7 linked regions of the Homo sapiens genome follow. The protein of the gene in region 6 interacts with the protein of the main gene of each other region in a biochemical or structural test. Each region holds a gene or a part of one and is shown on either strand. Other genes may lie near its edges. The genes, in order: DCUN1D4, UBE2L3, RBX1, RHOU, ASB9, CUL5 and DEPTOR.

Evidence for each region.
Region 1: the proteins of CUL5 (region 6) and DCUN1D4 form a complex in vitro, tested with the Homo sapiens proteins (one study listed by BioGRID).
Region 2: the proteins of CUL5 (region 6) and UBE2L3 form a complex in vitro, tested with the Homo sapiens proteins (one study listed by BioGRID).
Region 3: the proteins of CUL5 (region 6) and RBX1 form a complex in vitro, tested with the Homo sapiens proteins (4 studies listed by BioGRID and IntAct, with this or other methods).
Region 4: the proteins of CUL5 (region 6) and RHOU form a complex in vitro, tested with the Homo sapiens proteins (one study listed by BioGRID).
Region 5: the proteins of CUL5 (region 6) and ASB9 are reported together in a solved structure, tested with the Homo sapiens proteins (one study listed by BioGRID).
Region 7: of the proteins of CUL5 (region 6) and DEPTOR, one has a biochemical effect on the other in vitro, tested with the Homo sapiens proteins (one study listed by BioGRID).

Annotation. Positions count from the first base shown.
Region 1 is NC_000004.12:51,909,153-51,912,652, forward strand, and holds part of DCUN1D4 (DCN1-like protein 4), read left to right. Parts: intron 1-5; exon of another isoform or gene 6-300; intron 301-1,917; coding exon 1,918-2,022; intron 2,023-3,500. UniProt on the Homo sapiens protein: Contributes to the neddylation of all cullins by transferring NEDD8 from N-terminally acetylated NEDD8-conjugating E2s enzyme to different cullin C-terminal domain-RBX complexes which are necessary for the activation of cullin-RING E3 ubiquitin ligases (CRLs).
Region 2 is NC_000022.11:21,595,214-21,598,713, forward strand, and holds part of UBE2L3 (ubiquitin-conjugating enzyme E2 L3), read left to right. Parts: intron 1-3,500. UniProt on the Homo sapiens protein: Ubiquitin-conjugating enzyme E2 that specifically acts with HECT-type and RBR family E3 ubiquitin-protein ligases.
Region 3 is NC_000022.11:40,964,878-40,968,377, forward strand, and holds part of RBX1 (E3 ubiquitin-protein ligase RBX1), read left to right. Parts: intron 1-2,921; coding exon 2,922-3,007; intron 3,008-3,500. UniProt on the Homo sapiens protein: E3 ubiquitin ligase component of multiple cullin-RING-based E3 ubiquitin-protein ligase (CRLs) complexes which mediate the ubiquitination and subsequent proteasomal degradation of target proteins, including proteins involved in cell cycle progression, signal transduction, transcription and transcription-coupled nucleotide excision repair.
Region 4 is NC_000001.11:228,741,979-228,745,478, forward strand, and holds part of RHOU (rho-related GTP-binding protein RhoU), read left to right. Parts: intron 1-1,306; coding exon 1,307-1,762; 3' UTR 1,763-3,500. UniProt on the Homo sapiens protein: Binds to and activates protein kinase PAK1. Plays a role in the regulation of cell morphology, cytoskeletal organization and focal adhesion assembly during cell migration. Also stimulates quiescent cells to reenter the cell cycle.
Region 5 is NC_000023.11:15,256,584-15,260,083, reverse strand, and holds part of ASB9 (ankyrin repeat and SOCS box protein 9), read left to right. Parts: intron 1-1,138; coding exon 1,139-1,218; intron 1,219-3,500. UniProt on the Homo sapiens protein: Substrate-recognition component of a cullin-5-RING E3 ubiquitin-protein ligase complex (ECS complex, also named CRL5 complex), which mediates the ubiquitination and subsequent proteasomal degradation of target proteins.
Region 6 is NC_000011.10:108,071,398-108,074,897, reverse strand, and holds part of CUL5 (cullin-5), read right to left. Parts: intron 2,567-3,500; coding exon 2,436-2,566; intron 1,509-2,435; coding exon 1,401-1,508; intron 1,099-1,400; coding exon of another isoform or gene 1,021-1,098; exon of another isoform or gene 832-1,020; intron 1-831. UniProt on the Homo sapiens protein: Core component of multiple cullin-5-RING E3 ubiquitin-protein ligase complexes (ECS complexes, also named CRL5 complexes), which mediate the ubiquitination and subsequent proteasomal degradation of target proteins.
Region 7 is NC_000008.11:120,002,722-120,006,221, forward strand, and holds part of DEPTOR (DEP domain-containing mTOR-interacting protein), read left to right. Parts: intron 1-255; coding exon 256-390; intron 391-3,500. UniProt on the Homo sapiens protein: Negative regulator of the mTORC1 and mTORC2 complexes: inhibits the protein kinase activity of MTOR, thereby inactivating both complexes. DEPTOR inhibits mTORC1 and mTORC2 to induce autophagy.

The sequences.
Region 1 (3,500 bases), on a different chromosome or scaffold from region 6:
CTTAGTGTATGTCCATTGTGACGGGGACATAGGTATTGATGATGGTGGAAGAAGGCACAATATATATCACAGCAAGACTAGAGATTTGGGGTTTAGTGAATGATTACAAACTCTGCAAAGGGAAAACTCTTCCAGAGCGCCAGTGTTGTCAGCCCAGTGCTGCATAAGCTGTTGTTCAACAAATGGACTTTGGCCGAGTCCTGTGGTGCCGCGTGTGTTTCTCAACAGTTTACTCGTTTATCTTGTGGATTGCTTCATAGTATGGTGTGCTGTTGCCGTCTGCCACACCTGTGTTACAGGGTAAGAGGAAGTTTTCCATTTGCTTGCACAGTGTCATCACAGAAGTGTAAGCCCTTGAAACACAACAAACCAATGCAGTTTGTCTGGCAAAAGGCAGGCAGTCTCTAGATCACCTCTTCTCCTGTCCTCTTCTCCATTGGGAGTGCGTACTGCAGCCCTGAGCAGGACAATACATATGGCCAAGGGACAGGCAGAGAACCCTGTGGAAAGGAGGTCCCACCTGTTTGCATAGAACTGTGGAACTGGGATACACCTGCCCTCATCAGACTTAAGTTATGTGACCTCTGAAAGAAGGGTGATGTGGAGCCATCTGACCTGGTCTATTCATGGACAGTCGTTACACTTCACAACTGAGACCAAAAGGCCAGATCTATTGCACATCTTCCTTAGGCAACAAGTTTCCTTGTCTTCATCTACCTTGATTGTTGTTGTTAAGTGAGGCCCTTACATTTGCTGTATTAAGTCCCAATTCAGGGTCATGGCTAGAAATGGTTTGTATACTAAAGAGTACCTCACTGTTAAGCGTCCTTGCAGTGATGATTTATTTTATCAGGAGGTATATATGGCTGCATATGTGGCTTAGGGTGGTGGTCACAGCATCATCCCTTAATTTGAACATTTAGATTCCACTGCACTGGGCTAGCCAGGCACTTTCTCCCTTTGTAAAAAACTACTTTTACAAATTTCCACTGTAGTTAAGATAACACATGGAGGCTAGCTTTGGATATGTAAGGTATGCTTATGGTCCCAGGCCCTCTATTCCTTTCCATGGAAACTGACCGCTTGTAGTTCTGGAATGGAAGCATATAAGAAAGACGGAAATGAGAAATTAGGATCCTTAATTGCAAATGTAAGTGGAATGAGCTTACCCTGCCCTTATTTAGGTTTATGTTCTTATCTTTTTTTCTGGTGTCCTTATGAAATGTTGTCTTTCACTTGGTTACTAGTTAGGAGTATTTTACTAGGAAATTTACGTCTAAGAAATCTATCTATCTATCTGTCTATTGAAGGACTGTATTGATAGACTTCCTGCCTTCCACCAGAGTGGGTAGATGAATCTATCCTCTGATTTAGAGAGACACTTCAGAGCCCCAGCATTTGGTATGAGCTGAAGTCAATTCCAGCATGTTTAGGTTCAAGAAAAATATTTATCAATGAAATCAAATTGATTTCGTTTTTATTAAGGAAACCTGATTCCTAATCATAGGCATCAAAACCTTTAAGCTCCGTTGAGTTATAGGCTTTATGGTCAACAATTAGGATTTTGATAATTATCATAAATATCAAACAAGCAAGTGATTGAGTTACAAGTTTTTATTAATCCCATGAAAAGCCTGTAGAAACTGCTACGACATAACTAATTGATTTTGCATTAGGGTGATCATTCAGTTGACATAAATCTTTCTCACAGTAAATTTATATAATATCGTAATGCCCAAGCCTTCCATTGTGTTTGACTACCTCCCCTCCCTAACCTTAGTCTGGATGCAGGGTCTTTAAGGTGTATGATAAATGAGCTGTTTACTAATTTCCTGTTGAAGTGAATACACATTTGCAATTATTGGAATTTATTATTTGGGGGCATCTGGCTCATCCTTGTTTTTGTTTGTTAAACAGGAAAAGGACCAGCGCAGCCTAGACATAAACACTGCCAAGTGCATGTTGGGACTGTTATTAGGAAAAATCTGGCCCCTTTTTCCAGTTTTTCACCAATTCTTAGAGGTACCAAATTGTTGTTTTATGAAATGTATGTTTGCTTGCTTGGAACTACCAAATAACTTTATTCACCCGTTGTATGTAATTTTTTGTTTGTTGTACTTTTCTGCCTATGTAGGAATTACGGTGACATAATTGCTGTCAGTCAGCAGCTACCTATCTTCTTGGAGTGCATCTGTGTATGCGTTTAATGTTGTGTTGCTTCATTCCACATTAAAAATGCATCCGAAACAGCCACAGCTCTGTCCTTTTCTCTCTTTTCTCATCCCCATTTTAAAGCTTCACTTTTGTTTAGATTTTCTGTTCTTTGTAACAATAGAAAAAGAAGATTTACTTTCTTTTGACTTTAGATGAACTTCCACTTTTATTAAGCAGAGGTTTAAAAGACAGTCATCTGCCTTCTTACCAAAATTAGTTTGTAGTATGTTCTTATCTACTCTTGTCACCAAGTAACTTGAGGACCTTAGATCAATCTAAGTATTAGGCAGACTGACAATATCTCCTTCAGTTTAAATTGTCTTCAGATCAGTATCAGAACAATCCAGCACTTTATTCCATCATTGTTTGTGTGCTTTTAAGTATTGATGATCAGAAATTCTGAGCTACTGGTTTTGTTGAAGTGTCATTCTGTGGGACCTGGAAGTATATGGGATACAAGTTTGAGTTACTTGGGTTGTCATATATGGCATCCTCCTTTCCCTCCTGCCCCAAGCCCTTCTAAAAAGTGTCCTTTGCTTGCAAGGATGAGGGTGTTGGGTCTTTGAGAAAATGCTGGGCCGTAAGATGACTCTGGCTTCACTCTTGAATAATCTTTCTCACAACTTACTTTATGTAATGGTCCAGAATATTTTTAATATCTGATAGGATTCTTTGAGAACTGTTATTAAAAATTTCTTTTAACATTACTAAGTGGGACTCCTCAAAAATTTAAAAACTAGTTTTACGTAAGTATCTGTTTACCCAAAATAGTCCATGTTGACATATGGTCTGTTCTAATTTCTCTGACAATCCCTTGAGATGAGTTAGCATTATTTGGAAAAATAAATAGAAATAGTTCCCTGTTCTCAGAGAGTTTAGCTGGATTTACACCTGTGTGTAAAGAGTCTTAAGCTGGAAGACCTGGCCTGGAGGAAATCTGACTTTGTGTAATTCCAGGTGCATCATCAACTGTTTCAGGACTGGTTTTTGCTTTTACCTGCTTAGAAAGTTAAACTTGTAGTCTGTGCTTTGTTCTCTCTCTTACATTAGTTTGCATTTTTCTTTAAAAAAGACAGTATTCCTCTCATTTCAGCTTTTCTTGTGTTTGCATCCTCAAAACCATTGACTCAACTCTCTTTGCTTTTTATGTACTTGTATTGTTTTACTATGTTTCTGATTTTAGTGGGGAAGATTTAAAAATCATTGGTTCTGGATTTTATTTATGAATCTTCATACAGGGATACTGTATTTTTAAATAGACACATGGCAAATTTCTCGTCTAAGAG
Region 2 (3,500 bases), on a different chromosome or scaffold from region 6:
TGTATACCACTTCTTCTCGGTCCTCTCCCTTGCTTTCTTCCAGGGCCCCTGGGTTTGTATGAGGAATGTTTCAATGAAGTCTTCTTCCTTCTCCAGAGCAGTTAAGGCATTGTTGACATCTGACATCCCCAGGGTCCACACTTGTACCCCAACCTGGGCTTTAGGTCTTCCTGCATTGGACGGGCTGGGCCAGCATGGGAATCTACTATACAAACTCACCTGAGGTCTGCCCAGTTGGGGTAAAAGTAGAGCCAGGCCGATGAAGGCATGGCAGCCCAGCCCTGGTCCTTAGTGGAGAGTGGTGCTGTCCTTGGGTAGCCACCTAGCGATTGCCCTGGTCGTAGTGCACAGAGGAGGGCAGGTGGGAGGGAAGGCTGGGGAGGTACTTCCTAGAGACTTCATTGTTGCCAACGCAACTCTGGTCTATTCCCTTTAAACATTTGTTTTTCTGTAATTTTTTTTCATCTAAGATGCTAAGGTAACGTCTAAGGAAGAAAATATTACCCATAATCACATCATCAAGAAATTCAGTTACATTTTGTGTACTGCCCTTTAGGAACTAGAGGTGTGGTAGTCACCCTTCTTGAAGCTTCTAGCCCAGTGAATGTGTTTACTCTTAACCTTCAGCATACTTCCTCTCAGCCTTTTTTCATGCAGTTTCTTTTTTTTCTTTTTAATTGAGTTGGAGTCTCGCTCTGTCGCTATGCAGTGGCACGATCTCGGCTCACTGCAACCTCCGCCTCCCGGGTTCAAGCGATTCTCCTGCCTCAGCCTCCCAAGTAGCTGGGACTACAGGTGCGCACCACCACACCCCGCTAATTTTTGTATTTTTAGTAAAGACGGGGTTTCACCATGTTGGCCAGGATGGTCTCAGTCTCTTGACCTTGTGATCCACCCTCCTCAGTCTCCCAAAGTGCTGGGATTACAAGCGTGAGCCACCACGCTGGCCTTCATGCAGTTTTTAATAAACCATTTCATAACTTCATAATAATGTTTTGGTTTTTTGAGGCAGGGTTTTGTGCTGTCACCCAGGCTAGGGTGCAGTGGTGTGATCATGGCCCATTGCAGCCTTGAATTTCTGGGCTCAAGCAATCCTCCTGAGTAGCCAGGACTACAGGTGTGTGCCACCACACCCAGCCAATTTCTTTTTATTTTATTCCATTTTATTTTATTTTTTGAGACAGTCTTACTCTGTCACCCAGGCTGGAGTGCAATGGTGTGATTTTGGTTCACTGCAACCTCAGCCTCCTGGGTTCAAGTGATGCTTATACATCAGCCTCCCGAGTAGCTGGGATTGCAGGTGTGCACCACCATGCCCAGCTAATTTTTGTTCTTGTTTTTGAGACAGAGCCTTGCTCTGTTGCCCAGGCTGGGGAGTGCAGTTATGCGATCTCGGCTCTCTGCAACCTCCATCTCCCGGGTTCAAGCAATTTTGGCTAATTTTTGTACTTTTAGTAGAGACTGGGTTTCTCCATGTTGGTCAGGCTGGTCTCGAACTCCCGACCTCAGGTGATCCACCCATCTCAGCCTCTCAAAGTGCTGGGATTATAGGCATAAGCCATTGCGCCCATCCTGTAACGTCTTAAATTTCCACTACAAAGGTTCCAGTTCATCCACATCCTTGCTAACATTTGTTATTTTACTTTTTTTTTGTTTTTACGTTACAGCCATTCTAGTTGGTATGTAGTGCTGTCTCATTGTGGTTTTGATTTCTGTTTTCTTCATACTAAGGATGTAGAACATGTTTTTGCATGGTGTGTTTTTTGTTTTTTTGTTTCTTTTTGAGACAGGGTCTCACTCTGTTGCCCAGGCCAGAATGCAGAAGCACAGTCTCGTCTCACTGCAACCTCTGCCTCCCGGGTTCAAGTGATTCTCCCACCTCAGCCTCCCGAGTAGCTGGGACTATAGGCGTGCACCACCACACCTGGCTAATTTTTGTATTTTTTGGTAGAGACAGGGTTTTACCATGTTGGCCAGGCTGGTCTCGAACTCCTGACCTCAAGTGATCTGTCCGCCTCAGCCTACCAAAGTGCTGGGATTACAGGCTTGAGCCACCGTGCCTGGCCTGATGCACTAAAGTTTTAAATTTTTTAATTTAATTTTTATTTTTAGAGAAGGGGTCTTGCTCTGTCATCCAGGCTGGAGTGCAGTGGCTCAATAATGGCTCTCTGCAGCCCCAGACTCCTGGGCTCAAGCAGTCTTCCCAAGTAGCTGGCACTATAGGCACATGCTGCAACCCCCAGCTAATTTTAATTATTTTTTCTGTAGAGATGGAGTCTTGCTGTGTTGCCCAGGCTAGTCTTGAACTCCCAGGCTCAAGTGGTCCTCCTGGCTTAGCCTCTGAAAGCTCTGGGATTTACAGATGTGAGCCATCACACCTGGCCTTAAATTTTTAATAAAGAAGTCCAATTTATCTATTTTTAATTTTGTTGCCTATACTTTGGTTTGATTTTTAAGACACTGTTGCCAAATCCAAGGTCATGCAAATTTTCCTGAGTTTTCTTCTAAGAGTTTTATAGTTTTAGCTCTTAAATTTGGATCTTTGATCCATTTATATGTAGATTTTTTTTTTTTTTTTTTTTTTTTTTTTTTTTGAGACAGGCTCTCGTTCTGTTGCCCAGGCTGGAGTACAGTGGCATGATCATGGCTCACCACAGCCTCAACCTCCCAGGCTCAAGCGATCCTCCCACCTCAGCCTCCAGAGTAGCTGGTACTGAAGGCATGAGCCACCACGCCCAGCTAATTTTTGTATTTTTTTTTTTTTTTTTGTAGAGATGGGGTTTTGCCATATTGCACAGGCTGGTCTTGAACTCCTAGACTCAAGTGATCCGCCTGCCTTAGCCTCCCAAAGTGCTGGGATTACACCACTATGCCCTGCCTCATTTCTTATTTTAATAATATGAGTCTTTTCTCTTTTTCCTTTTATCAGTCTAGCTAAAGTTTTTTCAATTTTGTTGATCTCTTCAAGGAAGGTTTCATTAATGTGTGTGTGTGTGTTTTTCATTTATCTCCTCTGTGCTTACTATTTACTTCTTTCTTGTGTTATTACTTTCTTTGTTCCTTAAAATATCCAGTTAGATTATTGATTTCAGACTTGCTTTTTCAATGTAGGTATTTAAAGCTGTAGATTCCCTTTGAGCACTACTTTTGCTGCATAACTTAAGTTTTGGTATGTCATTTTTTTTTCTGAGGATATTTTCTAATTTCCCTTGTGATTTCTTCTTTGACCCATTGCTTGTTAGAGAGTACGTTTAATTTCCCCATAATTGTGAGTTTTCTAGTTCTGTTATTGATTTCTAGTTCCCTTTCCTTCTCCCTTTCCCTTTCCTTTTTTTTTTTTTTTTTTAAATAAATAGAGATGGGGGCTGGGTGCAGTGGCTCACACCTATATTCCCAGCATGTTGGGAGGCTGGGGTGGAAGGATCGATTGAGCCTAGGAGTTCAAAACCAGCTTGGGCAATATAGCAGGACCCCGTCTCTATTTTATTAAAATAATAATA
Region 3 (3,500 bases), on a different chromosome or scaffold from region 6:
CTCCAATCCTGGGTTCCCTCATAAAATGGGGCTGATAGTGGACCACATAAAATTGTAATCCGGATTAGATGATTTATGTTAAAATGTGATTAAACAACTCCCGGCACATAGTAAGCACAAGTGCTTGTTAAAAAAAATCTAAATAGGCCGGACGCGGTGGCTCACGCCTGTAATCCCAGCACTCTGGGAGGCCGAGGCGGGTGCATCATGAGGTCAGCAGATGGAGACATCCTGGCTAACACAGTGAAACCCCGTCTCTACTAAAAATACAAAAAATTAGCCGGGTGTGGTGGCAGGCGCCTGTAGTCCCAGCTACTCGGGAGGCTGAGGCAGGAGAATGGCGTGAACCTGGGAGGTGGAGCTTGTAGTGAGCCGAGACCACACCACTGCACTCCAGCCTGGGTGACAAAGTGAGACTCTGTCTCAAAAAAAAAAAAATCTAAATAAATACAAATTTGAGGTAGAGGTGTTACTGTGTAGATGGTGTTCTCAGTAGTTTTTCCTGTTGGGTTGCAACTCTTTTTCCTACCTACACTGGTTTTTTGTTTTTTTTTTTGTTTTTTGTTTTTTGTTTTTTTTTTGAGACGGAGTCTCACTATGTGGCCCAGGCTGGAGCGCAGTGACGCAGTCCCGGCTTACTGCAACCTTTATCTCCTGGGTTCAAGTGATTGTCCTGCTTCAGCCTTCCGAGTAGCTGGGATTACAGGTGTGTACCACCACACCCAGCTAATTTTTGTATTTTTAGTAGAGATGGGGTTTCGCCATGTTGGCCAGGCTGGTCTTAAACTCCTGACCTTGGGGCGATCTGCCAGCCTCGGCCTCCCAAAGTGCTGGGATTACAGGCGTGAGCCACCGTGCCCAGCCCCTACCCGCACTTTCGGGTACACCTTCTTCCATCTTTGTTGGGACCCTTTGGCCAGGCTCACAATAGACCATGTTGGCCATGGGGGAGCTTTAATCGTTCATGGGGATAAAGGAAGTATATTGGGCTCTTTGCCCTTTCTGGCATACAGACATATACTAAGAACCATGTTCCTTTATGTGGAAAGAAAAGAGAGTGAACATCCCCTTAAATTTGGCTAAGGAGAGATTCTCTGAGAGAGCCTGCCGTAGAAGAGAGCCAGCATGGTGTGGCAGAAGGCTCTGGATTAGTCCTGGGTTCTAGTTCTGGGTCTTCTACAAACCAGCTCCATGAATTAGGCAAGTCACTTGTCTGGGTTTCAGTTTCCTGTCTGTAAAATGAAGATAAAAATATCTGTCATGCTTGCCTGCCAGGGTTGATGTGAGGCCTCAAATGAGGTAATACATGTCAACATCTTCTGTAAACTGTCAAGTACTATAAATTTATCTTCTGTAAATTGTACTTTGACCGCTAAATATATCCATTAATACATCTTAGTAAATGTTCAGGGGTGCTGTCACCTCCCTGACACCTCCTTTACAGCCCCCTTTTCCCCAGCGCGTGGTATGCTCTGACTTAGTTGGGCTCTACCAGGACACCGTACTGCTGCAAAGTGCTCAGTGGGTGAGGTGGGAGAGGGAGAAGCTGTCGAATACCCTTCGGTGAGCCCGACCCCAACACCTGATGGTTAAGAAAAATGTCTCTGCTTTCTGCCTTTTGGAAATTTTGCTCTTTCTCTTTTTCACAGTGAGTTATACAAGAGTCAGCTGAAAAGGGATCTTCCAAAAGGCTGTCACTCTAAGAGAATATTTGTCCTCTTGGGTATCCCTAGTGTACTAGCTGTGGATTCCACTCTTAGTTACTGAATTATATTTTTGTCTTTGTCAAAAAACATTTCACAAGATAATAATCCATATTATATAATCCCTTAAGTTCCATACATACTTTGGGAGACGTACCGACCAGATTTCAGTTGTTATTAAATGAAGCTTGTAAAGCTTTTGTTGTTTTGTTAGGGTGAGTAATTTCTGCCCGTGCCCCACCACAGTGCACCAATCACAGACGAAATGAAGGAAGCACTTGCTGCGTCTGTCCTAATACGCACATGAGCAGGGGGAGAAGTGCTCATTGCAGAAGCATTGTGATTAGCATCTGCATGTCATGAGCCCACGCCAAAAAACTGCATGCAGATTGTCCTTTTCCCAAATCTAAGCAGACTTCTAGCTCCCTGTCAGTTACCAGTGTTCTTGATACTCTTGTCTTTTTACTTCTTGTCTTGATTATGAAATAAGCCTTTTGATGCTCTTTAGGCTGCTTGTGTGCCGTTTGTCCCTCATAAGAATACTTCCTTTTACCCCAATTTTCTTTTATCTCATTCCCTAAGACAAAGTCCCTCACCCATTAAAGGCACGTGAAGTACTGAGCTCTTGTAATATCAATATGTCTGTGAATAAATCTAGAAATAAAGTTTCTTTGACCAGAGCTGAGCTGGGTGTGGGGAGGTTGGGGAAGTGCCCGTCTCAGTTCTGGGTGGGCGGCAGTGACCATGCACTTCTCTACCAAGGGCTGGGGAGAAGGCTCTGCTCCTACAGGTCGCATTCTCCAGGGGCAGGAGGGTGGGAGGGAAGCTAGAGACCCAGAATGGGGATATTTGAAATCTGCATTGATGAGGGGCCTCCTTTCCCAAAGAAAGTGGAAGTATCCCCTTACAGGCTGAATGGGACCAAGGAGCCACATTCCACGTTCTCTTAAATAGAAGAGAGCTCAGTGCTGGCACATACTCCTGTGCTTCCTGAATGATTTCCTTTAGTAGTAATGACATTTCTAACAAATGCTTTGTTGGAAATACCCTTGCATCTAACCAAGATATAATCAGTTGTTGAACTTTTGCCTCTCGTTGTCTTCTTTTCTTTTCTTGCCCACTATATGTCACCCATGCCACTACCCTGTGGGACCTGTTGTCGCTCGATGGCTGAGCCTGCATAGAGTTATTTTTAATAAAATATATGTTTTCTTTCAGCATGCTTTTCACTTCCACTGCATCTCTCGCTGGCTCAAAACACGACAGGTGTGTCCATTGGACAACAGAGAGTGGGAATTCCAAAAGTAGGTATCTTTGGTTGTTTTGACGGGGCTTTTTGACTTGCCTCAGGCTGAAAGGAGCGTGGTCTTGGGGGATGGAGACATGATACATGCCTTGTTTTTTTTAAAACTAGTTTTTGGTTACTTAAGCTAGGACTTATCTATATGGAAAATGCACAAAGGATTAGCCAACATTAGACATTTGCAGCCTAGGGTTTCCCAACCTTTTTTTTTTTTTTTTTTTTTTTGAGACGGAGTCTCGCTTTGTTGCCCAGGCTGGAGTGCAGTGGTGCTATCTTGGCTCACTGCAACGTCCACCTCCCAGATTCAAGCGATCCTCCCACCTCAGCCTAGCAAGTGGCTGGGATTACAAGTGTGTGCCACCATGCACAGCTAATTTTTGTATTTTTCGTAGAGATTGGGTTTCACCATGTTGGCCAGGCTGGTCTTGAACTCCTGATCTCAACTGATCTGCCTGCCTCGGTCTCCCAAAGTGCTGGGATTACAGGTGTGAGCC
Region 4 (3,500 bases), on a different chromosome or scaffold from region 6:
TACAGGTTTCTTTTATACCAAGAGAAAAAAGCCACGGATGGAGTATAATGTGATGTAAATGGTACTTGGTAAATAATCGGAGTGTGTCAATTGAGTAATGAAAAACATGAATGGCGTTGAACTTTTTCTTGTCATTGGGAAATTATTTATACCTGAGGATGGTTGGCACCAACAGATATACATTTTACATAGGAAAGAGTAAATATTTTTCTACAAAAGAGTTGAGCAAAAGTTGTCAGTTAGCTGAATATGGTGCTACAGGGAACTATAGGATGTTTTCTGTAAAGAAATGGTAATTTGGAGAACAACATCTGTCTGTTCACAGCCAAATCCCCTCGCCTGCCACTGTGCCTTGAGTGTAGGTGATGTTCAGTGTGTCTGTTAAATGGATGACCACGGGAGAGCATTGGCAGCACAACCGTTGGTTTATTTGTAATCAACTCTAACTTATTCTATCCACTTCTCTATACTTTAAGGGTAGGGTGGGCGTGCCTATTCTCCAGTTCTTATCTGTCCAAAGCACTGTACATGGAGGCCATGGGTACTGGCAAGGATAAAGGAAGTAGGAGAAAATGAAGGAAGGAGGGAGGAAGAGAAGATACAGCCAGAATGAGGATGTATTAACTAGTGTCTGTAAGTGGCACTGAGCTGCAAAAGTTTTCTGAGTCACGATGACAATGGACTGACAAAGGTCCTCAACTCCATTTCTGGTCTGGCCTTGAGTCTGATTAGCATTACTCTGCGTTGCTGTGCATAGTGTGGGCAGAGCGTGTGCACAGTGCAGATGGGATGAAATTGGCATCACTCAGAGCTGTTGGGAAAGGCAGGGCTGGATTGATAAAGAGAGGAGCTGTGTTCGTAGACTGGGTTTGAGTGGGAGTCTTGAGGATCAATATGGGTGTGGTCTGAATTTTAGAAGAGTAGCTAAGTACCAAGAGTTGAGAGTAGGTTTGGGTTACACTCAGCTGAAGGCTTAAGTCCATTTTATTTCTAGAACCCACCTACTTTGAGCACTTTTTCTATGTTAAGCTGTAAGTAGGTCTTGAGTGTCGATGAACACGTTGAACATGTTTGGCAGTGTTCAGACCATAGCTGGCCCTGAAAGCAGATGGCTGCCACACCTTCGCTGGTGCACTGGCCCCGCTTGGGTAAACAGTAGGATCGTTTCAAGGATGCTGGCTCTTCCTTCTAGAACCAGCGGGTCTTCTATCACCTGCCAGACCCTTTCATGAAAAATGTGAAGGTGATCTTTTTACTGATGAGAATTCATGAAAACATAACTTTTGGGTACTTTGCTTGGTTGCAGGATGAATTTGACAAGCTGAGGCCTCTCTGCTACACCAACACAGACATCTTCCTGCTCTGCTTCAGTGTCGTGAGCCCCTCATCCTTCCAGAACGTCAGTGAGAAATGGGTGCCGGAGATTCGATGCCACTGTCCCAAAGCCCCCATCATCCTAGTTGGAACGCAGTCGGATCTCAGAGAAGATGTCAAAGTCCTCATTGAGTTGGACAAATGCAAAGAAAAGCCAGTGCCTGAAGAGGCGGCTAAGCTGTGCGCCGAGGAAATCAAAGCCGCCTCCTACATCGAGTGTTCAGCCTTGACTCAAAAAAACCTCAAAGAGGTCTTTGATGCAGCCATCGTCGCTGGCATTCAATACTCGGACACTCAGCAACAGCCAAAGAAGTCTAAAAGCAGGACTCCAGATAAAATGAAAAACCTCTCCAAGTCCTGGTGGAAGAAGTACTGCTGTTTCGTATGATGCTGGCAAGACACCCAGAAAGGCTATTTTCAGATGAAATCGATATTAGAAGCTATATTAGCTGAAACAACTCCTTTTACTGCGTAGAACCTATATCGAGAGTGTGTGTATATGTATTATAGGAGGAGCTCTCAATTTTATGTATTCTTTCTGCCTTTAATTTTCTTGTTTGTTTGAGCTTAGGGATGAGATACTTATGCAAGATATTTTTGAAGTAAATTAAACATTTTTCACATCTCTGGAAATTTAGAGTTCTAGACCTCTGGTTAATTTATATCTAATATGAAGAAGACACCTCTAATCTGGATGTTAAGAATGAAGTTCTGCTACATTATAATGTACAGAAGAGCAAAAGGGAGGAACACTATGGTTAACCCTCTCTTGATTAAGGGCTACTTAATGCACAGTGCATTATGTACACAGGTCAACCATGGTAACAATAGTTCTTAGCTTTGAAACTCCATGCAAACCATGCCTTTTTTTTAAGGAGCAAAAATCTGAGAAAAAAAGTGAGAGACCTCTGCCTACAAAACCTCAAACCAGTCACTTTTGTCAATTGCTAATACCCAGTTACTTATGATTTAAAAACAACCAACAGAAAACATCCCACTGACTGTATGGCACTCTGTAGTCAAAAAAGGAAACTTCCTTATTGGGACTTTTCTTTCTTAGTCCAGTTGTGTTGACACATATGAACACAGACAAAGTGCTATGCGGAGGAAAGCAAGTGTTGGTCAGTAGTTTCATGTTTTAGGGAGTGGTTCCTGTGGAGATCAGAAAGTGACATTTGCTTTCGGTACTGTAATACGTGCACCAAACTGCCTCAATCCTAGGTAACGAGGGCAACAGGGAGCACCTGTCTGGATTGTTTTTAAACCTCCATACTCAAGCTGTCTCTTCGGCAGGGAGGTGAATACTCTTGAAAGGCCAACAGCAAGTGTTTGTGGGACACAACACAGATAATTTTTTCTTAAGTCGGCCAAGATGTACTTCTCTGTGTGCACACCCATGCACACTCATGCACACAGATACATAGGTCTGTATGGCTGTATTTGCTGTTGATTCAGACTTTCACACCATTAATGGGGAAAAGCGTGGCCACAAAAACAGATGCTAGGAAGCTTGGCTTCCTCTTCTTGTTGACCCTTTTTTGAACCAACATCTTTTTTATTATATTCAGAGTATGTTTTTAAGTGTATCTTAATATATACATTTTTTAGGACATCTTAAATCTAAACAAAAAATAAAATGAACATCTCTTGAAACCTGTTAAAACAACCAGTTAAAGCCACAGATGGCTTTCAGGGCAGTAGCAGCAGAGGCCAGTGGACTCTGAGGACTCCTGAGGGGCGGGGCGTGTAGCCAGCCAGGTGCATGCCGGGACCATGGCCCCCATACTTGGCTGCTTCCTGTGACAGTGAAATACATCCTTCAAGGTGGCAGCTGTTAGGGCTGAATCTTCTGGAGAAAAAGGTGCCATCTCAGGAGAATAGCTTTTACTCTGGTAGGAATGCTTCCGAGACACCACAAGGCAGCCTGAACACTCAGTTGCAGGGTCGGGCTTGCGGTGGGTGACCCAGAGCCACCAAAGTCACATCCACAACTAATGAGGGAAATCTGTAAAGCCAGTTAGATAGAAGAATTTTATTTTTCTGTGGGTTTTGTGTTGTCTTTTTTATGTTAAAAAGAAATCCAGTTTGTGTTTTTCTATAGAAAAAGTAAAAGATCAGGTTATACT
Region 5 (3,500 bases), on a different chromosome or scaffold from region 6:
GGTATAATTAAGACTCTCTGTTTAGTGTTAGGGCAGGATAATAATAGTAGCTAGTATGTGTTGAGCCATGGTAAGTACAGGTTGAGCATCCCGTCTCTGAAATCCTTGGGACCAGAAGTGTTTCCAGTTTTTTCAGATGTTGGAATATTTGCATATACATAATGACTTATCTTGTGGATGGTACTCAAGTCTAAACACGAAATGCATTTATGTTTTATATACACCTTACACACATAACCTGAGATAATTTTATATAATATTTTAAATAAGTTTGTGCATGAAACAACGTTTTGACTGCAACCCATCACATGTCAGATGTGGAATTTTCCACTTGTGGCATCATGTTAGCACTCAAGAAGCTTTGGATTTTGGAGCATTTTGGATTTGGGAGTTTTGGGTTAAGGATGCTCAACCTGTATGTTATATATTAGGGCTGCTCAACTTGTAACTTTACAGAGAAGGAAACTGCGGCACTGGGCCTTTCCCGGGACCCACAGGTCAGAAAAGGTGAAGCGGGTCTGAATTAAGAGCTTTCTTTAACCACCTTGGCATGCTGCCTTTGAGGGTAAATAATGTCCCTGTTTCAAGGTGAGACTGAACACTGATTTGTGCTTAATATTAGGACAGGAGATAATCTATAAATAGATATGGTTCTGTTTAGATTTGATTCCAAACCTAATGGTGTATGTAATTACATGATTACTACTATTAATACAGAACACTGTTTGGTGAGATGCCAAAGTCTGTATTTCATGCAGGAAACTAGACTGACAGCTACAGCTTAACACACTAATGTTGGTAATTAGTGAAGCTCTCGCTTAACTAAATGGGCCATTTGCCTTTGAAACCAGTGTGTAAATAGAAATAGAGTAATCTGTCATCCCAATCCACCTCTTTTGTCCTTAGTTTGAGGACTGGCTGTAGTTCTTTCCCAAGCTATCCAGACATTTCAAACAAACTGTGCACAAAAAATATTAATAAAGAAGAGAAATGCTGAATTCCTGATGGGAATTTTGGTTGAGTGAATCCAATGTCTCCCTCCATCCAGGGCCTGTTAGGCTCTTATTGATGGGCAAGGATAAGCCTCTGGGTCTAAGTGCATTAGCAGGATATAACCCATTCCCCTCTTTCCATACAGATGCTGTGTCTGATTGGTCTCCTATGCATGAAGCTGCAATCCACGGACATCAGCTGTCTCTGAGGAACCTCATCAGCCAGGTAGCTTTTTGAAAATACAATACAGAAGAAACCTATCAAAATATTAAAACAAATGTGTGACATAATAACATAGGGACTTTTAAATTAATTCATTAAATAGAAGACCTAGTGGTGATTCTAGTAACTACCATAACGTCTAAATAGGATGAGTATAGATTTTGAGATATTTTAGATGTCTACAGCAATTGTAATACAATAGAAAATATCTGTAATTTCTATTGGAGATAACCCTACATAATACTATTACTACTGTGGTTTGTTGTCTACATTCTGAACTGAAGGAAATGCTAAATTTCAGATAGAGCTGAGTGAGAATAAATGTGCTTTAAAAAATCCAATTTCATAGACCTATCTAGAGTAAGAAGTCCTCCTATAAGAAAATAATTTCTAAAGAAAAATTTCATACTATCCTAAGCCACTATCTTAAGCCATTTTTGGTAGCAGCAGTCTATTATAAATAGATTATAACACTAATTCTAGCTAAAAGAAGTTAGGCTACTTCTCAGATAAAATTAGAAATTTACCCTATTTTGATAGCATGAAAAATGATCACTGCAGCTTTTATATATCACTTCTTAAATTGGACAGATACTCATTTACATTCAGTATTTATGTGTTTATGAAACATCAGCCAGAACCATATCTCCAAGTTCTATCACATTATTTGTGTAAGATGTCTTTTTAGAGCCCCGGTTTCTGCTTTCATAAAATGAGTATTCTAATACCTACCTAGGTCAGTCCACCCCATAACTCAATAACAAACCATCCCAAAACTCAGTGACATGATACAGTAACCATTATTTCTTGCTGATGTGTGTTTGTGTCAGTTCATCTAGGCTGGGCTTGGCTGGGCTTGGCTCCCAGCTGTGGGTTGGGTGTAGCCCTGCTGCACATCTCTTTCATCCTGCTTGGACCACTGGCTACCTGAGGAATTATTTTTTCTTGGCAAAACGCTGGAGCACAGCAGGACAAGCCCCACCATGCAAGAATACTTCCAATCTGTTCATGTCACATCTGCTAACATCCCACTGGTCAAGTCACATGACCACATCCAAAGTCAAGGCTCAAGAGAAGTACATTTTGTCAACTAAGCGTAGTTGACGACTGAAAATAGATATATTAAAGTTAAGCCATTCAATCTTTTTTTAAAAACTAAGAACTGACTGTGGACTGAACACTGTGAAGTAATGGGTTAATTACCTTATGATTTTATATGACTCAGACTTGTTAATAATTTAGACAAATCACAGTTAATTTAAGGTAGAACTGTAGCTTGATGATGAACTACAAATGAGTTTCTAACTTTACAGAAGGAACCTCTCTGCAATGTGAATATGTGGTGAAAACTTTTTGTGTTACGAATAGCTGTGTTGTTGTATTTCATTTACGTGGATTTATGTATAAACACCTAAATGCTGGTTTTATTTTTATCATTATTATTATTATTATTATTATTTTTTTGAGATGGAGTTTCACTCTTGTTGCCATCTGGAGTGCAGTGGCGCGATCTCGGCTCACTGCAACCTCCGCCTCCTGGGTTGAAGCAATTCTGCCTCAGCCTCCCGAGTAGCTGGGACTACAGGCATGTGCCACCACGCCCCGCTAATTTTATATTTTTAGTAGAGACGAGGTTTCACCATGTTGGTCAGGCTGGTCTCAAACTGCTGACCTCAGATAATCCATCAGCCTTAGCCTCCCAAAGTGCTGGGATTATAGGCATGAGCCACCGTGCCTGGTCTAAATGCCGGTTTTACAATGGCAGTTGTGCCTGGAGGAGTATGCACATTTTCCTATTGGTTGTTTTTATGGTTGCCTTTTGCCCAAGTTCTGTACCTCGGCCTGCCTTCCCCCAACTTGTGTCTGATACACTTGCATGATTTTTGCTTCATGTGACAATCATACCCCTCTTGTGGCATTGACAAAGCTACTTTCTATAAGTGTGATGACTGTGAGAAAATAAGATATTTTCTCCTGCCAATTGGACATTTAAGTCTTAGGTATGAATAGTAAAGTAAGAAATGACATATTCTTTTCTTTGATCACGACAAAAGTTGGCACATTTTTTTCTTTCTTTTTTTTTTTTTTTTTTTGAGACGGAGTCTTGCTGTCGCCCAGGCTGGAGTGCAGTGGCGCCATCTCGGCTCACTGCAGGCTCCGCCCCCTGGGGTTCACGCCATTCTCCTGCCTCAGCCTCCCGAGTAGCTGGGACTACAGGTGTCCCCCACCTCGCCCGGCTAATTTTTTGTATTTTTAGTAGAGATGGGGTTTCACCGTGTTAGCCA
Region 6 (3,500 bases):
GACTTCACACCACGCCCACCATGTCTATACTCCCTTAACTCCTTTCCTACTTTACCTACTTATTTGTTTTATTTTTATTTATTTATTTTTTGAGACAGAGTTTCGCTCTTGTTGCCCAGGCTGGAGTGCAATGGCACGATCTCAGCTCACCACAACCTCCACCTCCTGGGTTCAAGCAATTCTCCTGCCTCAGTCTCCTAAGTAGCTGGAATTACACGCATGTACCACCACGTCCAGCTAATTTTTCGTATTTTTAGTAGAGATGGGGTTTCTCCATGTTGATCAGGCTGATCTCGAACTCCCGACCTCAGGTGATCCACCCGCCCTGGCCTCCCAAAGTGCTGGTTACAGGCGTGAGCCACTGCACCTGGCCTATTTACTTGTTTTAAAATAGACAAAAAGAGTCTGGGCACAGTAGCTCAGGCCTGTAATCCCAGCACTTTGGGAGGCCGAGGCGGGCCCATCACCTGAGGTCAGGAGTTCGAGACCAGCCTGGCCAACACAGTGAAACCCCGTCTGTAGTAAAAATACAAAAATTAGCCGGGCATGGTGGTTGGTCCCTGTAATCCCAGCTACTCGAGAGGCTGAGGCAGGAGAATCGCTTGAACCTGGGAGGCAGAAGTTGCAGTGAGCCAAGATCATGCCATTGCACTCAAGCCTGGGCAACAAGAGCGAAACTCAGTCTCAAAAAAAAAAAAAAAAAAAAATTAAAATAGACAAAAAGAGTGAGAAAAAAATCCTACTGGAGAATGGAGAAAGTTGTCTTTTTAGAATCATTCAAACTTGGGAAGTAACGAAAGGTAGTCAAAGAAGAGAAAAAACTAACAGCAATTTCTTGTTATAGGTTTATTACACTAAAAAAGATACAATGCTAAGGACAGTATGGTGTTTTATTATCATTATCCTATACTAGTGAGGATGGAAAAAGATGGTATGCAATACAAATGCTTCCCTGGGAAACAAGGATAAGTATAACATAACTCCCGAAGGAGTCCCATGAAAGGACGGAGGATGGAGGAATCAACTCTGCTGGTGATGAGCTGTGGAGGGAGGCAGGACATCAAGGAAGCTCCAGGGGAAGTATTCTTTGAGCTGGGTCTTAATGGAAGGATGAATAGGAATTCAATAGATCAGTAATATTCAAAAACAGAAAAACATTCTTGGAAAAATGAGAAAAAAGCAACTTTCTAACTAAATTCTAATTCACAAGGCTATCTAATGTTTAACAAATGCTTACAGCCAAGACAAAACGAATATAGTTGTTCTCCACTGATGAAAAATAACAGTTGCTAGGTTTTTAAGTTTATAATTAATAGAAAAATAATGCAAATTGATTATTAGAAGTAAATTATGAGAATAAAACTTTTAAAAGTGTTTTTTATATATATAGGAATATATACCTTATCTCTTGCAGTAAGAAATCGTGGATCATCTTGAAAAGCTTCTTTGACGAGTTTACTAAATCTATTAAATAGTGTAAGTAACTGCTCAACGTATTTCTCAGAGTCCTAGAAACAAAAGGTTTTACATTAAGTTTTTAAAAGAAAAAGAATAACACAAAAAAATGAGAAAATAAACATAATTTTAATAAAACTCATTTAAAACTGGGGATATTTTTTCTTAAAAATAAAACTAAAAGGTGTTCCAATATTACTGTTTTGCCACTTCTTTTTTCTTTCTTCCTTTTTTTTTTTTTGAGACGGAGTCTCGATCTGTCGCCCAGGCTGGAGTGCAGTGGCACCTTCTCGGCTCACTGCAAGCTCCACTTCCTGGGTTCACGCCATTCTCCTGCCTCACCCTCCCAAGTAGCTGGGACTATAGGCGCCCGCCACCCCGCCTGGCTATTTTTTTTGTATTTTTAGTAGAGAGGGGTTTCACCATGTTAGCCAGGATAGTCTCGATCTCCTGACCTTGTGATCTGCCCACCTCGGCCTCCCAAAGTGCTGGGATTACAGGCGTGAGCCACCTTGCCCAGCTCCCTGTTTTACAGAGAAAATAGTAATTTCAATTACTATTTTCAATTTTCAATTCTGTATTTTTAAAAATTTAATGTTTTTATTTGTAATCAACACATAATGGTACATATTATGGGGTACAATGTTATATTTCAATGCATGTATATACTATAATGATCAAATTGGGGTAACTACTATATCCATCACTTCAAACATTTATAATTTCTTTGTGGTAACAACATAAAAAATCTCTTCTATCTTGAAATATACACTACATTGTTACTTGCTATATCCGCCCTAATGGGTAATAGAACACCAAAACTTATTCTTCCTATTGAACTATAACTTTATACCCCACTAACCAACCTCTTCTGCTCCCCCAACCCCCAGCCTCTGGTAACCGCTCACTATTTTCAATAATCCTACATTTAAAAAATAGCCTTGATATATATCTATCATTGCCATTGAAAAAAAACTTACAGTAGTAATAGTTTCAGCAGCTGCTACCATATCTGCCAGGCCAGCACTAATGATATGTTCCTCCAAGTCTTTCAACATTGGCTCTATACCATTAGGAACTTTGTCCATCAATGAAAACATTAAATGTAATTCTGGAAGGAGAGAACACATTCATGTAATCATTTCATTTACTAGAGTAAGAGTTTAGAGAAACATTAGTTAAGTTTGTAATGTTAATAGTATTCTGTGGATACAATGCCATTAGGAGTAGTTGTTCGTTTTTTTGTTGTTGTTTTTTTGTTTTTGAGACAGGGTCCCAGTCTGTCACCCAAGCTGGAGTACAGTGGCTCGATCACGGCTCACTGCAGCCTTGACCTCTTGGGCGCAAGCAATCCTCCCATCTCAGCCTCCTGAGTAGCTGGGACCACAGGCACATGTCACCATGCCTGGCTAATGTTTTTTGTAATTTTGTAGAGACAGGGTCTCCCAATGTTGCCCAAGCTGGTCTCAAACTTCGGGGCTCACACAATCCTCTCGCCTTGGTCTCTCAAAGTGCTGGGATCATAGGTATGAGCCACTGTACTTAGTCTAAAAATTATGTTTAAAAAAAAATCGAATTAAAAGTGATCAGGCTGGGTGTGGTGGTTCACGCTTGTAACTCCAGCACTTTGGGAGGCCAAGGTGGGAGGATCATTTGAGCCCAGGAGTTAAAAAGACCAGTCAGGGCAACATGGCAAAACCCATCGTTACACAAAAACAAACAAACAAAATTAGCTGGGTGTGGTGGTGCATGTCTTTGGTCCCAGATACTTGGGAGGCTGAAGTGTGAGGAATGCCTAAGCCCAGGAGGCTGAGGCTGCAGTGAGCCGTGATTGCACCATTGCACTCAGCCTGGGTGACAGGGCAAGACGGTCTCAAAAAATAAAAATAAAAAAAGTGATCAAATACTGCAAAACCCAACTCCTTTCTTTAAAAGGTCAGTCATTTGGCCAGAAGCAGTGGAGATCAGCCTGGGCAACAAGGTGGGGCTCTGCCTCTACAAAAAATACAAAAATTAGCCAGGCATGGTGGTACACGGCTGTAGTC
Region 7 (3,500 bases), on a different chromosome or scaffold from region 6:
GAGCCCAGGTTGTGTCACGTACTCCAGCCTGTGCAACAGGGCAAGACTCCATCTCAAAAAAAAAAAAAAAATATATATATATATATATATAATATAAAGTAAGTGGCAGAGCTGCAACTCAAGTTCTTGTTTTTCTGCCACTAAGACCAGTGTGCTTTCTCCTGGCCCCTCTGGACCTTGCAGTTGAAAGCCTATGTGCTCTAGTGAGCCGAGACCACCCCCTTGGTGACTGTGTGTGTTCTCTGGCCTACACAGTGAGCCCCAGCAAGGAGATCAAGATCGTGTCTGCAGTGAGGAGAAGCAGCATGAGCAGCTGTGGCAGCAGCGGCTACTTCAGCAGCAGCCCCACCCTCAGCAGCAGCCCCCCTGTGCTCTGCAACCCCAAGTCCGGTGAGTGCCCAAAAGGTGGCCCCGCTCCTAAGACTGTGGGGACTTGGGCAGGTCCCTGGGAAGCAGAATCTGAGATAGCGGGAGACTAGTGTGTGGGTTCTAATAAGTTAGAGCATGCTCTTGGGGTCCACACGTGTTGAATGGAAGGGAAGGAAGAATTGGGCTGAAGGAGAAATTGGGTTGTAGCCCAGTCTCAATGAAGGCTATCATTGACCCAGTAAGACCTCTGGAGCTGGGATGGCCCTTCCAAGTTGCCTGGAGTTGTGTTGAGGGGGCTGGGCCTTTAGATCCACATGTTGGCCACTTATTAGGTATTGGCTGCCCCTGGGAGGAGGGCATGACCTTGGGCAAAGCAGGTGTCTTCAGAGAGATGGTCTCCAAGACAGCTGAGGGCTGTCACCATTAGCACTCTCGGAGCTGGGAGAAGTCCCTGAGCCCTGAAGGGTGTTTTGGGCAGTATGTGACAGTGCTCACAGCAGGGGAAACAGCACTTCCCCAGAATGCAGCCGATGCATAAGATCTGTTGGGGCCCAACACCCTTAAGGAAGAAGCATGGATGTGTGCAAACCCAGCTATCCCTGGAATTGACCCTGGGTGTCTTGTGGTTTCAAAATCTGCTCATCAACCTCCATGGCCTTTATATTCCAGGAAAAAAATCTAGGCACAAAATTGTTGGTGAACATGTACTTAGAAACAATCCTTCCTCCACCCAATCAGTTCATCAACCACCCAGGAACTGGTAATCCATTGAAACTACCCTTTCTCACCATCCCTTACCCACCTAATGTCCTCACTTGCCAGGATGAGGATGTGTGGTCCATCACTACAGTAACCGCCAGAGAACACTCTCAAACCCATTTGTTTAAGGCACTGTCCACCCCCAGTTCAGTTTGTCACCTTCGAGGAAGAGGCTCTGTTCCTTTTGTTCATGTTGTTTCCTCATCATCAGATCTTGGGGATACAAAGATGACAGGTCATAACCCCCAACTCAATGAAAACACCACCTCTTTGGAGAAAAAAACAAAACATTTCATGTTAGTAAGAATAAGCACTAATTGATGCAGTTCAAAAGGCTTTGAGAGAAAACTCTGTCATCTAATGGTATTATCTAGGAAGGTGGCTCTTTTTCCTGATCTAACTTTTTTTCTTTTTTTGCTGCCTTCTGGAGTGTTAGCAGCAGGAATAAATGTAACCTGTAAGTGAATGAAGAAGCTTGCTTCCATACTGTCCTGGCTGAAGAGTCGTTGAGTACTGGGTTTTTCAATTACTGGAGCTTGCTGCTAAAGTAGAATGAAAAAGGAGAACTGAATTCTTAGAAATGGGATGTTTGAAGCCTTTGTAGAAATCTGACAGGCATCCTCAAAGTTAAAAGCAAAAGATCTCAGTTTCAATAAAAGGGTCAGTGGTGCCATAACCATTTTACAAGTTTTTGATTGCTTATGATGGAGTATGAAAAAAGTGTTAATTACTGAAATTAGCAACAAAATCCATGTTCCCTGAGGTAGGTTAGCATGTTTCCTCTTTCTCCTTGCCTCTGGGTCAAAGGGAAGAGTTTACTGTTATGCAGGCAGAAGAAAAAGGTCTCGTTTCCTTTCGTGGGTCCCCAAGGACAAGAGCTGTCAGGACTGAGTTGTGGTTTGTAAATTCCACTTCTTACCCATAGTTTGACAAGCTTCTCTCTCACTCTTAAGAGGATTCCCAAGACCCAGTGAGTTCATCTGTGATTTTTTTTTCTCAAGCAGATGATCAGGCCTTCACAGTGATGCATTTAAAAATTAATTATCTGAAATACACCAGGATATGTTTTTTTAGTACTGTATATAAATGCCCTAAGCCAGACACAAAAAACAGTACTAAAGATATTGATGTTATCAGTATCATTGTGATAAGCAAATAAGCTTCCAAGGATATGAAAAGAAAAAAGTTTTCCCTAGGCCTCAAAGTTTCTATATTTTTCAACATAATAAAGAGAAGTGCATTAAAATGAATGGTCAGCTCTGCTGCCAAATAGTACAGTGTGATTCATGTATCCAAATTCATAAGCCCCCTGAGGGTTTATGGGGAGTGGAGAGAGAGTTACCTGACAGGGAATAAAAAAGATCTCAGTCCTCAAATACTGACCACTTTTCTTACCTCCCATCCATCTGCTGAGAGATTCTGTTTCCATCTTGATATTTGACCTACTCCCTCTTGTTTGGCGAACATAAATTAATTTTTGCTTTTATGAGATTTCTGAAAGCAAAGGTGATAAGATCAGCAACCTGTCACCTCAACAAGAAGCACTGGATTGCCTTTCACTGAGAGGGTGCTTCTCAGGCCAGAAGGCCGTTCATGTAACCAGTGGGCGAGGTCCAGCTGCCTGGTAGATCATCACGCCTTGCCCCACGCTGCCTTTCCTTGTCTGCTGCACACTCTTTCCAGGACTGGTACCTGGCCTCTGACTGTCACTAGCAAAGGGGATCGGAGGATGCCACCTCACCAGGTTAGGCCCCTTGGCTGGGGCCTTTTCTGTTTCTCTGTGGCACTTCAAGTTCACAATGTCTGCAGAGCTGGATTAGAATGGTCTCTGTCCCCTGACCCCCTGGCTACTTGGGGAGGATACGACAGCCCCTCTCCAGTTCTTAGTGAGCACAGGATGGATGGGGGGGTTCATTATCGGTGGGTTTTAGGCAGCCGCAAGTCAGGAATTGGCTGCTGTCTGCCATCTTGGTGGGCAACAGCAGTGAGCTGATGTGAACGGGTGTCTCAGGAGGACAGCATGCCACTATCTTCCTGAGCTTCTAGACCCTTTCTTTTGCTTGCAGGACAGCATGGCCCAGAGTAAATGTGGCACAGTAGCTGAGAGTGTGGGTGCTGGTGTCTAATGCCTGAGTTTGATTCTACTTCTGCCACCCATTCGCTCTGGGACCTTGGACACAATCAATTTAACTTTTCTAAGGTTGTTTTTGCAGTTATAAAATGGGGATAACAATGATCCTAACTCATTCATTCTTGTGATGATTAAGTGAGTTAATATATTCACCTCACATGGTGCCTCTCTAGCATATGTTGAGTACTCAGAAAAGTTCACTAGCATTATTACTCATGGCAGAAAGCAGTGGGTACATGCA